Linked DNA regions of Homo sapiens. The protein of the gene in region 3 purifies or fractionates together with the protein of the main gene of each other region. This does not show direct contact. Each region holds a gene or a part of one and is shown on either strand. Other genes may lie near its edges. The genes, in order: NBR1, MGME1 and THEM5.

Evidence for each region.
Region 1: the proteins of THEM5 (region 3) and NBR1 purify together in Homo sapiens (affinity purification with mass spectrometry; one large-scale study listed by BioGRID and IntAct). This does not show direct contact.
Region 2: the proteins of THEM5 (region 3) and MGME1 purify together in Homo sapiens (affinity purification with mass spectrometry; one large-scale study listed by BioGRID and IntAct). This does not show direct contact.

What each region holds. Positions count from the first base shown.
Region 1 is NC_000017.11:43,174,115-43,177,767, reverse strand, and holds part of NBR1 (next to BRCA1 gene 1 protein), read right to left. Parts: intron 1,978-3,653; 5' UTR 1,969-1,977; coding exon 1,867-1,968; intron 1-1,866. UniProt on the Homo sapiens protein: Ubiquitin-binding autophagy adapter that participates in different processes including host defense or intracellular homeostasis.
Region 2 is NC_000020.11:17,988,796-17,991,751, reverse strand, and holds the end of MGME1 (mitochondrial genome maintenance exonuclease 1 isoform 2 precursor), read right to left. Parts: intron 1,814-2,956; coding exon 1,643-1,813; coding exon of another isoform or gene 1,566-1,642; 3' UTR 630-1,565; downstream 1-629. UniProt on the Homo sapiens protein: Metal-dependent single-stranded DNA (ssDNA) exonuclease involved in mitochondrial genome maintenance. Has preference for 5'-3' exonuclease activity but is also capable of endonuclease activity on linear substrates.
Region 3 is NC_000001.11:151,846,980-151,850,732, forward strand, and holds the end of THEM5 (acyl-coenzyme A thioesterase THEM5), read right to left. Parts: exon of another isoform or gene 3,254-3,753; intron 1,314-3,253; coding exon 1,203-1,313; intron 884-1,202; coding exon 759-883; intron 436-758; coding exon 392-435; coding exon of another isoform or gene 141-391; 3' UTR 122-140; downstream 1-121. UniProt on the Homo sapiens protein: Has acyl-CoA thioesterase activity towards long-chain (C16 and C18) fatty acyl-CoA substrates, with a preference for linoleoyl-CoA and other unsaturated long-chain fatty acid-CoA esters.

The DNA.
Region 1 (3,653 bases), on a different chromosome or scaffold from region 3:
TAACAACCCAGGTAAAAATATACATAAAATTCATACAAGAGGAAATCAGAACACCTAACAAATACATCAGAAGACTTTCAAACTTTCTGGTGGTCAGAACAATGCAAATTGAAGCAATGAGATGACATCTCATCAGAATACCAAACTGTGTGTGTGTGTGTGTGTGTGTGTGTGTGTGTGTGTGTGTGTGTGTGTTTTGGGTGGGGTGTGGGGTAGGGAACAGCAAATGTTTTTTAAAGCCATAACATCCAGTGTTGTCAAAACTTCAGGACACTGTCATGTATTTCTGTGTGCTGCTACAATTGTTCTGCAAAGCATTTGGCAGAATCTATTAAAATTTCAAATAAAATGCTTTGTGACCCATTAATCTCACATTTGTATAGGACAGAGTTTATCCTGTAGAACAGTGTATAAGTTATGTGTATAGATGGATATCTCCTGAAGTTTCAAGATAAGAAAAAAAAAAAACGAAAAATATCTTTTTTTTTTTTTTTTTGAGATGGGTCTCACTCTGTCGCTCAGGCTGGATTATAGTGGCTTGATCTTGGCTCACTGCAGCCTCAACCTCCAGCACTCAAGCAATTCGCCCACCTCAACCTCCGGAGTAGCTGGAACCACAGGTGCCTGCTACCAGGCCCAGCTAATTTTTGTATTTTTTTGGTAGAGATGGGGTTTTACCATGTTGCCCAGTCTGGTCTCAAACTCCTGAGCTGAAGTGGTCCACCCATCTTGGCCTCCCAAAGTGCTGGGATTCTAGGCGTGTGCCACTGTGCCTGGCCAAATAATGTTTATAGTATGATCCTAGTATGATATCTGCATGAACATGGAAAATTTAAAGTACATACAGGGCTGTTAACATTGGTTACCCAAAGAAGGTGGGAGTAACAGATGAGGGGGGGGAGAATGGAGGGCTATTAACTGCTTGAGATGGTTTCTCTTCTTAAAATGGGCATGTATTATACTTATACAATTTAAAATTTACAAGGAAGAAAAAAGGCAAGCTGTCAGCTCATTTAACTACTAGGAAAAGAAAGATAACTGATTTTCACATCTTTTGGCAAACAAGATCTAACTTCTTTCTGAATCCAATCTTTTTTTTTTTTTTGAGACGGGTCTCACTGTCACTGATAGGACAGTATGAACAGGTATTTGCTGGAAGGCAGACAACTACCTCAGATCATCTTTTAAGATCTACCATTTCTTTCCCTTTTTAGTTATCATCAGATATAACCAGGTAAACGTAGATTTTTACCAAAGGGTTTCAGAGAGAAACACAGTCAACACAGGAAGTAAAACATTCACCACTGCAAACTGAACAAAAACAGAAGAGTACAAAGGGCAAACCAAGAGGAGGAAAAGCCTTAGCAAAAAAACGGAACAGGTGAACTGCTGTCTAAGCAGGTATGAAAGTTTTTCCTGCTCAACTCTGAGATACTCAACCTCTGACCTAGCAATAAAAACAATTGATAGGCTCTTGCAAAACACAAGTTATATCCTTGTGCAAAACACAAGTCATATCCTCACACAAGAGAACATTTCCTTGGGATCTGGTTGGGTGGAGTCCACACCAATTCACTCCTCATACTGGTTCTAAAATTAATAGGTTTTCTAAATCCTATCTCACTAAAAACAATTTTACCTTCCCTTTCTAAAATGTTCAAAAGGAAATTTATGTGTTGGTTCCCTTTATTGGGGCACATCTCATATATGAATACTGAAACCCTATCAAAAGCAATTTTCCAAAAGGCCCAGAAATGGTAACTATGACAGACTTCACAGCTATGAAACAACACTGCTAAAAATAGCTACCTTTGGAAAAAATAACCATGCTTAAACCAAGGAGAAACAAAATAAAGTAACACTCACCATAGCTTCGATATCAGCCCAAGTTGTATTTTCTGGATCAGAAACCAGAAAGCTTTGAATTTCATTTTTAAAAGTCACATTTAGAGTAACCTGTGGTTCCATGCTGTGAGGCTAGGGTTGAGAAGGTTGGTGGGAGAGAGAGAAAAACACATTAGAAAGGGTTCTATAAGTTGCACTAAAAGTTCACTCAGCAAATACTTGTGAGGACCCAATATGGGCTGGGCTTGGGAGACAGCAATGAACAAAAGAAACACTGTCCCTGTTCTTACGAAACTTACCATCACTGTTAAATAGGAATTGTTTCAGGAAAGAAAGATAGGCTAAAACCATGCCATAAAGACTTGTACTTAAGTCACAAAAATTATTCTTGAAGTTATTAGGAACTTCCACATGTTGGAAACATGTGGAAACAGAAGTATGCTGAAAGTATTTAAATTTTGACCACATTCCCAGAAATCATCTAGCATTTGTAAAATCCTTACGGTACTTTATGATGACTGGTTAACTAAACAAATACTTACTAGTAGCAGGACATACCAACATGGATAAGAGAGATAAGGTCTCTGCCCTCAGGGAACTTGTATTCTTGTATGACTTGAGAGTGACATTCTACATTTTTCTTGCAGAAGGAGGGTTGTCCTAACTTGAGAACCTAGGTTTTCTACCAGTTTTACGAACTTACAGGCCAAAACACTAGCCAAGAAACTACACAGAGGTAGCATTCAATGCCCTCCATCCAAGTTACTATGTTTTTTCACAATCTACTGATTTTTTATTTTATTTTATTTATTTATTTATTTTTGAGACGGAGTCTCGCTCTATCGCCCCAGGCTGGGGTGCAGTGGCACGATCTCAGCTCACTGCAACCTCCACCTCCTGGGTTCACGCCATTCTCCTGCCTCAGCCTCTCGAGTAGCTGGGGTGCCCGCCACCACATCCGGCTAATTTTTTTTTTTTTTTTTGTATTTTTGGTAGGGACGGGGTTTCACCGTGTTAGGCAAAATGGTCTCGATCTCCTGACCTCATGATCTGCCTGCCTTGGCCTTCCAAAATGCTGGGATTACAGGCATGAGCCACCGCACCTGGCCTTGTACTGATTTTTTAAATGGGGGATTTCAAACATATATAAAAGTGGAGAGTAATAAACACTTAGTTAAACCAACAATCAACTCAAGGCTATCCTCATTCACATATACCCCCGCATCTCCCACTTCTGCCCCAACAATGAACTGACCATAGTCAACTAATGTTTTAACCAAACTATAATAATATAATTATTTTATATTATTGTATTTATTTATTTTGAGATAGAGTCTTGTTCTGTCGTCCAGGCTCAAGTGCAGTGGCACAATCTTGGCTCACTGCAACCTCCACCTTCTGGTTTCAAGCGATTCTCTCACCTCAGCCTCCTGAGTAGCTGGGACTACAGGCGCCCGCCACCACGCCTGGCTAATTTTTTTGTATTTTTAGTAGAGACGGGGTTTCACCGTGATAGCCAGGATGGTCTCGATCTCCTGACCTCGTGATTCCACCCACCTCGGCCTCCCAAAGTGCTGGGATTACAGGCGTGAGCCACCATGCCCGGACTATTTTTTAAAATATTTTTATGGGAAAATTTAAATCTATACAAAAGTAGAGAGAATATAATGAATCCCTATGGACCCATAAGCTAGCTTCTTTCATAATTATCAACTCAGGACCAATTTGCTGTAACCAAAGGTTTACAGCAATACCCTTTCCCTACTAGATTATTTTGACAGACATCTATGCTTTTATCCATTAAGAAT
Region 2 (2,956 bases), on a different chromosome or scaffold from region 3:
TTGCCTCACTTCATTTTTGACTGGAATTTACAGGCTACAGAAATATGTATCTGCAGCTTGAGAAAAACCCACATGAATGCAGAAGTGTATAGAGATAATACAAAGGTCCCCCTTGATCCTCCCATCTCCTACCTGAATATTGCTTTCCTTGCTAGGTGACCGTGGCTGAGGGCTTAGTGAGGAGGCTTTTTTTTTTTTTTTTTTTTAAACGGAGTCTCGCTCTGTCGCCCAGGCTGGAGTGCAGTGGCGTGATCTCGGCTCACTGCAAGCTCCGCCTTCCGGGTATACGCCATTCTCCTGCCTCAGCCTCCGGAGCACCTGGGACTACAGGCGCCCGCCACGACGCCCAGCTAATTTTTTGTATTTTTAGTAGAGACGGGGTTTCACCGTGTTACCCAGGATGGTCTCGATCTCCTGACCTTGTGATCCGCCCGCCTCGGCCTCCCAAAGTGCTGGGATTTCAGGCGTGAGCCACTGCGCCCAGCCGAGGACGCTTTCTTTTATGCACTTACACAGAACTCTCACCAAAGCTATTGGGCTTGTAAAATTCTGAATTATAAAAAAAGTGCAAACAATTTCCAGGTTTATAAAATTATCCTATAAACACACAAAGTAAACAAAACCAAAGCTTCATTACTCATATCTTGTATTTTATTTCTTATGAAAATGGCTACCCAAAGAAGTCATTGTAGCAGGCTACTATTTTAAGGCAGCAACTGTATAACTTAAATGCTAAGACTCACTCCATAAGACAGAAAACCCTTCCCCAGGGCTGTAATGGGCATTTAAGTTTCCCAAACCCAGGGACAACTAATTTTTATTACCTATTGAATAGAAACAAATGGATTTTAATAGTTCCCCTCCCCTATAGCTGAAAAACTCCACAAACAATAATTGACTCTATCTACATGATCTGTTGACTCACGCCAGAAATAGTTACTAAAACACTTAGAATTGTGATGTTCAAACTGGCCTCTGGCTACTTCTGGGGGGTTATTTGGTGTTACGCAATGACATATTGCCAGCGACATGGTGAATATACTGTCTTTATAGTCAGCAATGTTTAGTTGAGGCTAATCACGTATTTATTTTTTCAAAAGGTTAAATGTAAGCTTTTCCCAGCTGAAATATATAGAAAACCCCAATGTATGAAACAAGTTTTAGGCATTGGTGTTGGCAGCGGTAGTGGGCTGATGTGTCCTCCCTGCACACAGCTGGGGGCATGTAGCCCCTTCCCCTCTGGGTGAACCCTGGGGAAATCTTGGCACCCTCAGCCTCACTGCCTTCCAATCTCAGCTCAAAGACTGGGCATCCTGCCTGGGACCACGCCCCCCCCCCCCCAATGTCCCTCAAGGGAGTACAAGAGTCACCAGCATGACTGCCCATCCTGCGTGTCCTCCTTTCAGGTAAATAAGAGGTAGCATAGCTGGGATTTCGCGTGCCGAAGTCTAGGTCTTTATATCTAGACTTTGGGGCTTTTCAGTCTTTTTGGTAACAACACATTTCAACAAATTAATACTTCTACTTGTGTTCGTGTAGCACTCAGATCCAGTGGCACCTCATTTTTACACTGGAGTAAACAGCAATATATGTTCCCAAACTGTGAGAAGGTGCTGAATGTTCCCAAATAGCAACTTGCTCCCTATTCTGAATATTCTGGTTTCTGAATATTCTGGTTCTTTTTCTTTTCCGTATATTCTTCTAGTCGAAGAAGCCACTTGGTCCAGTACTGGGAACAGAGCTCTGCATCCATGAAATGTGGGTGGGCAGGTGATCCATCTTTGTAGGCCACCACAATTAAGCCACATTGAACCTAGGAAGAAACACAGGGCAATTCTCGTTTCACTACAGTAGGTCCAGAGTTTAGGTTCGTTTCCTTCTTACTCCAGGGCAAACTCAGTATAAAATAATCTACAGGATATCTCCTAACTCAGTTTCTAAGGTAGGTTGATCAAAGACTGCACCAGGACACAAGAACACAAAGATGACAGATAAAACATTGAAGACTGGGCTGTGATCCTTACAGAGCCATTGAAAAAAAAAAAAGGCCCAAGAAGAGGGTGGAAAAGTGCTTTTTTTTTCTTTTTTGAGACAGGATCCCACTCCCATCGTCCAGGCTGGAGTGCAGTGGCACAATCTCGGCTCGTTGCACCCTCGAAGCTGAGGCGGGCACCACTTCCGGCTGATTTTTCTATTTTTAGTAATGATGGAGTTTTGTCACGTTGCCCAGGCTGGTCTTGAACTCCTGGGCTCAAGCAATCTGCCCACCTCGGCCTCCTTCAAAGTGCTGGGATTACAGGCATGAGCCACCACCCCTGGCCAAAAAGTGCTATTTATTTATTTATTTATTTATTTATTTATTTGGAGAGAGACAGTCTTGCTCTGTTGCCCAGGCTGGAGTGCAGTGGAACAACCTTGGCTCACCGCAACCTCCGCCTCCTGGGTTCAAGCGATTCTCCTGCCTCAGCCTCCCAAGTAGGTGGGACTAGAGGCACACACCACCACGCCCAGCTAATTTTTGTATTTTTAGTAGAGACAGGGTTTCGCCATGTCAGCCAAGCTGGTCTTGAACTCCTGACATCAGGTGATCTGCCCAACTCGGCCTCCCAAAGTGCTGGAATTATAGGCTTGGGCCACCACACCTGGCCTATTTATTTATTTTTGAGACAGGGTTTTGCTCTGTCGGCCAGGCTAGAGTGCAGTGGTACAATCTCGGCTCACTGGAACCTCCACTTCCTGGGCTCAAGCAATCCTCCCACCTCAGCCTCCCAAGTAGCTGGCACAAGTGTGCGCCACCATGTCCAGCTAATTTTTGTATTTTTTTTGTAGATACGGGGTTTCACTATGTTGCCCAGGCTGGACTCAAACTCCTGAGCACAAGCAATCTGCCTGCCTCGGCCTCCCAAAGTGCGTGAGCCACTGTGCCCAGCCAAAAAGTGCTTTTTTAAGTGGGAAA
Region 3 (3,753 bases):
TGCCTGACACCTGGCGGGTACTCAGTAAATCTTTTCAGTCGGTGCTGAATGGGAAGGTGGGTATGTGAGATGCCCTGGAAGGATTTTGATTTCCAACCACAGAAAGGCCCTGGGCCGAGAATGGGACTGTGAGACTTTATTTACTCAGAGAAAAGGGTCCTTTCCCTCGCCTCACCAATTGCTGCTTGAGGACCCCTCCCTGCTCTTTGATGGGTCCCAGGCAGGCAGGGGAGGCAGGAGGCAGGAGGCAGGCAGGGGAGGCAGGAGGCAGGAGGCAGGCAGGGGAGGCAGGAGGCAGGCAGGGGAGGCAGGAGGCAGGAGGCAGGCAGGGGAGGCAGGAGGCAGGAGGCAGGCAGGGGAGGCAGTGGCTCTCCTGCAGGCACAGTGACTGTTACTGGGGAGACTCTTCTTCCAACTGCAGCTGAAGGAAAACACCTGCAAGAGAAGGGTGAGTTGAGCTGCAAGAGCTGCACTGAGATGGCTGGAGCTTGATGGACACTCTGAGCATTTGGCTGCAAATTACCCATTACCTGGGTCCTGTCCTTTCGTTACAGGTTGGATAACTCATATATAGAAAAAAAAATCCTAGTTCTGCTCTCCCTTGCTTCATCTGTGTCCCTAGTAGGTGCCCTATCCCACCCCTAAAGAAGCTGGACCGCAGCTTGGGATGAATCATTGGCATCTTTTCTTCCTCCTGTTTGTTCTGGGGGTGGGTGGTGGTGGGACGGGGCCTGGGGCTGGGCTGGGGGCTCCTTTACCTGAGGACTTGGCATAAACTGTCTGCTGGTCTCTGCTGTGGGCGATGCAGGACATGTAAAGCTTCTGGTCCTCAATCTTGTCCAGTTCTACGTCCATTACAACCAGAGAGTCCACGGGGATCAAGCTGGGAGACGAGGCAGCTTAGCCCATCTCTCATGTGAACCCGGTTCCCCATCCCTTCACTCTCTGTGTCCTCTTCCCTCTCTTCATCCCTCCCGGCCTCGAGGACTCAGAAGTGGCCCTGGGCTCAGGGCCTTTTTGTCAGCTCCCAAAGTTGGACAGCAGAGGCTGTGTCCTGGCCAGGGACTAGAGGAATTGCTTGGGAGTGGGCTGGGGAAGGAGAGTGGCAGGCAGGGCTCCTACACCCCAGCTGCCGAGGATGGCCACTTCCAGGGATGAAAAGGTCTGTGACTTTGGCCAATGCCCCAGGGGCCCATACTTACTTTTTGAACCTGATGTTGAGACTTAGTGTGAACAGCCCCTCTCCAGCCAGGAAGGCAGTTTTAGAAAAGGTCTCGTCCATCATGGCTGCCAGGGACCCGCCGTGAGCAAACCTGGGGGTGGGGTAAGGTGAGGAGCAAGGCCTGGGCTGGGGCTGCTGGGCAGACCCCCTCAATGGGCCTTCCCTCCCTCCTGTGGTGATCCTACCTTTCCCTTTCCCTAGACCCTTCCAAACACAGACGTTCAGCCTCAGGGCAGCCAAATAGGAAAGAAGGAAACAGCTGCATCCCATCTGATCAAACCCGTCAAAATCAACTGAGCTTTTCTGTTTTGCTTCAGCATGCGTTTGCAGCCAATGATACAACATTTTATTTCATCAGGGAAATTGTTTTTTTCTGATAAAGTTAATAGAAAACATTTTTCTGGTTCATTACCTAATTGCTGGCAATAATTGCCATAATTTGGAAGGATGGGCATATACAGGAAATGAAAAAGTCCCTGAACTTTTTGACTCAGTCTTTGAGGCACAACCCTGGGCTGTTTCTCACCTTACCAGTCACTACAGCCAGTGCGGGGCCCACATCTCAAGATAAGTAAATGTGAAACATAACTTATGACCTATCAAGGGCTGGCATGACACACTTCTGAGCAGCGTTGCCACAGAAAGCAGAGCGCCTGCTTCAGCAGGCTCAATGCTGAAATTGAGCTGAAATGCTCAAATGCCGCAGACATTTGCTTTATTTAGAATGCATAGAATGGCCAGTCGCAGTGGCTCACGCCTGTAATCCCAGCACTTTGGGAGGCTGAGGTGGGCAGATCACTTGATGTCAGGAGTTCGAGACCAGCTTGGCCAGTATGGTGAAACTCCGTCTCTACTAAAAAATATAAAAATTAGACGGGTGTGGTGGCAAGCGCCTGTAACTCAGCTACTCGAGAGGCTGAGACATGAGAATCGATTGAACCCGGTGGGTGGAGGTTGCAGTGAGCTGAGATTGTGCCACTGCATTCCAGCCTGGGCAACAGATCAAGACTGTCTCAAAATTAAAAAAAAAAAAAAAAGCGTAAAATGTTCATTCTTGCTTTTGCAAGCTTTATGTCAGCTACTTCATGGTTGGCTAATTTGGGAAAATAGGCACCCATTTTAGAATTCAAATAACACCAAGCAGATTTGAGTTCCTGATTTTCAAAAGCACAGCCCATTCTCCACAGAGCCAGATCAGCTGTCCACACTGTACTGCCATGGGTTACCCTCCTGCTGCTGTGACCAGTGGCTTTTCCAGACCCTTCCCTCCCTGCTTCTTTAGTCTCTATCCACCCAGTTGGACTCCTTGTCCCACAGCTCACTACATGTTTGATCTTGAGCAAATTGCTAAACCTTTCTGAGCCTTAGTTTTTCCACCATGAATTTCACAATTCTGATCTCAGCAGATTAAATAAACAAATGTTTGCAAACATAATTTACACACTTCTTAGGCACTTCCCTGTCTGCCTCCCAAATTGCTTGAAAGAGAGTGAAAAGAGTTGGTGTCAAAGAACTCGAAACCAACTCTCTCCTCCTTGTCCTCACTGGCCAGCCTGGGGACCCATTGGCCAGTATGTGGATCTACAGAGTAGCTCTTGGCCAACGAGTAACTCCTCCTTCCCACTCCCCATGGTCTAGGGGCCTGGTGGATACTAATCTCTTCTCTAGACCCCCAACCCCTCAATCCACTGACTGGCCTTAGTGTTGGATGGTCCTCCTCTGCCTCTTTGGCCTCACTTCCATCAGCCCCTAAATAAAAGTCAGCCATGCTTCAGAAAGGAGGGAGTCCATGGCCTGGGCAGGGCTCTGAGCAATTCACTAGTATCTGCACAGCCTAGTGTGTGGAGCAGTGTCCCTGTGGAGGACTCCTTTGGGATGGCCAAGGTGACTGAGGGCTGCAGTTGGCATCCACAGCCTCTGGAGGCCCTGACATCTATTTAGCACTCTGGATTCTATTTAACCCCAGTTAAGCCCCTCTCAGGCTTCAGGACCCTAAAGCCACTCCTGCCCTCTCTTGTCTCTCCCTTGCAGGAGCTCCAGCACCACCTCCAGCCTTCAGTGACTGTCTGGAGCAGGCATCCGGATGGAAGAGAAGGGGGACAACCATGAACTTGGTGACCCACGGTCAGCCTGATTTCCCTTGTGGACACATTTATGCCCAGTGTGCATTCCTCCTGAGGTCTGTTCCAAGTCTGGAGGCAGCAGAGTAGAGTGGAGAGAACAGTGGACTTGGAATCTCACCTCCCAGATTAGAGTCCTGGATCTGACTTTGATTGCTGGTGCTGCCTCGGGCAAGTTACTTTAGCTGTGTGCATCTCCATTTCCCCATGGATAGAACATGGGTTTTGGGTAGAAGTGTCTGATAGCTGTACTGTGCTTTACGGTTCATGAGCACGCACACATAGGCCCATAATATCATATCTCTGGTCACCCTGGCAGGTAGATATTATTGCCCCAGGTTTCAGGTAAGAAGACTAAAGACCAGGGGTCAATTGCTTGCTCAGAGTCCCACAGCCAGCAGCAGCCAGGCA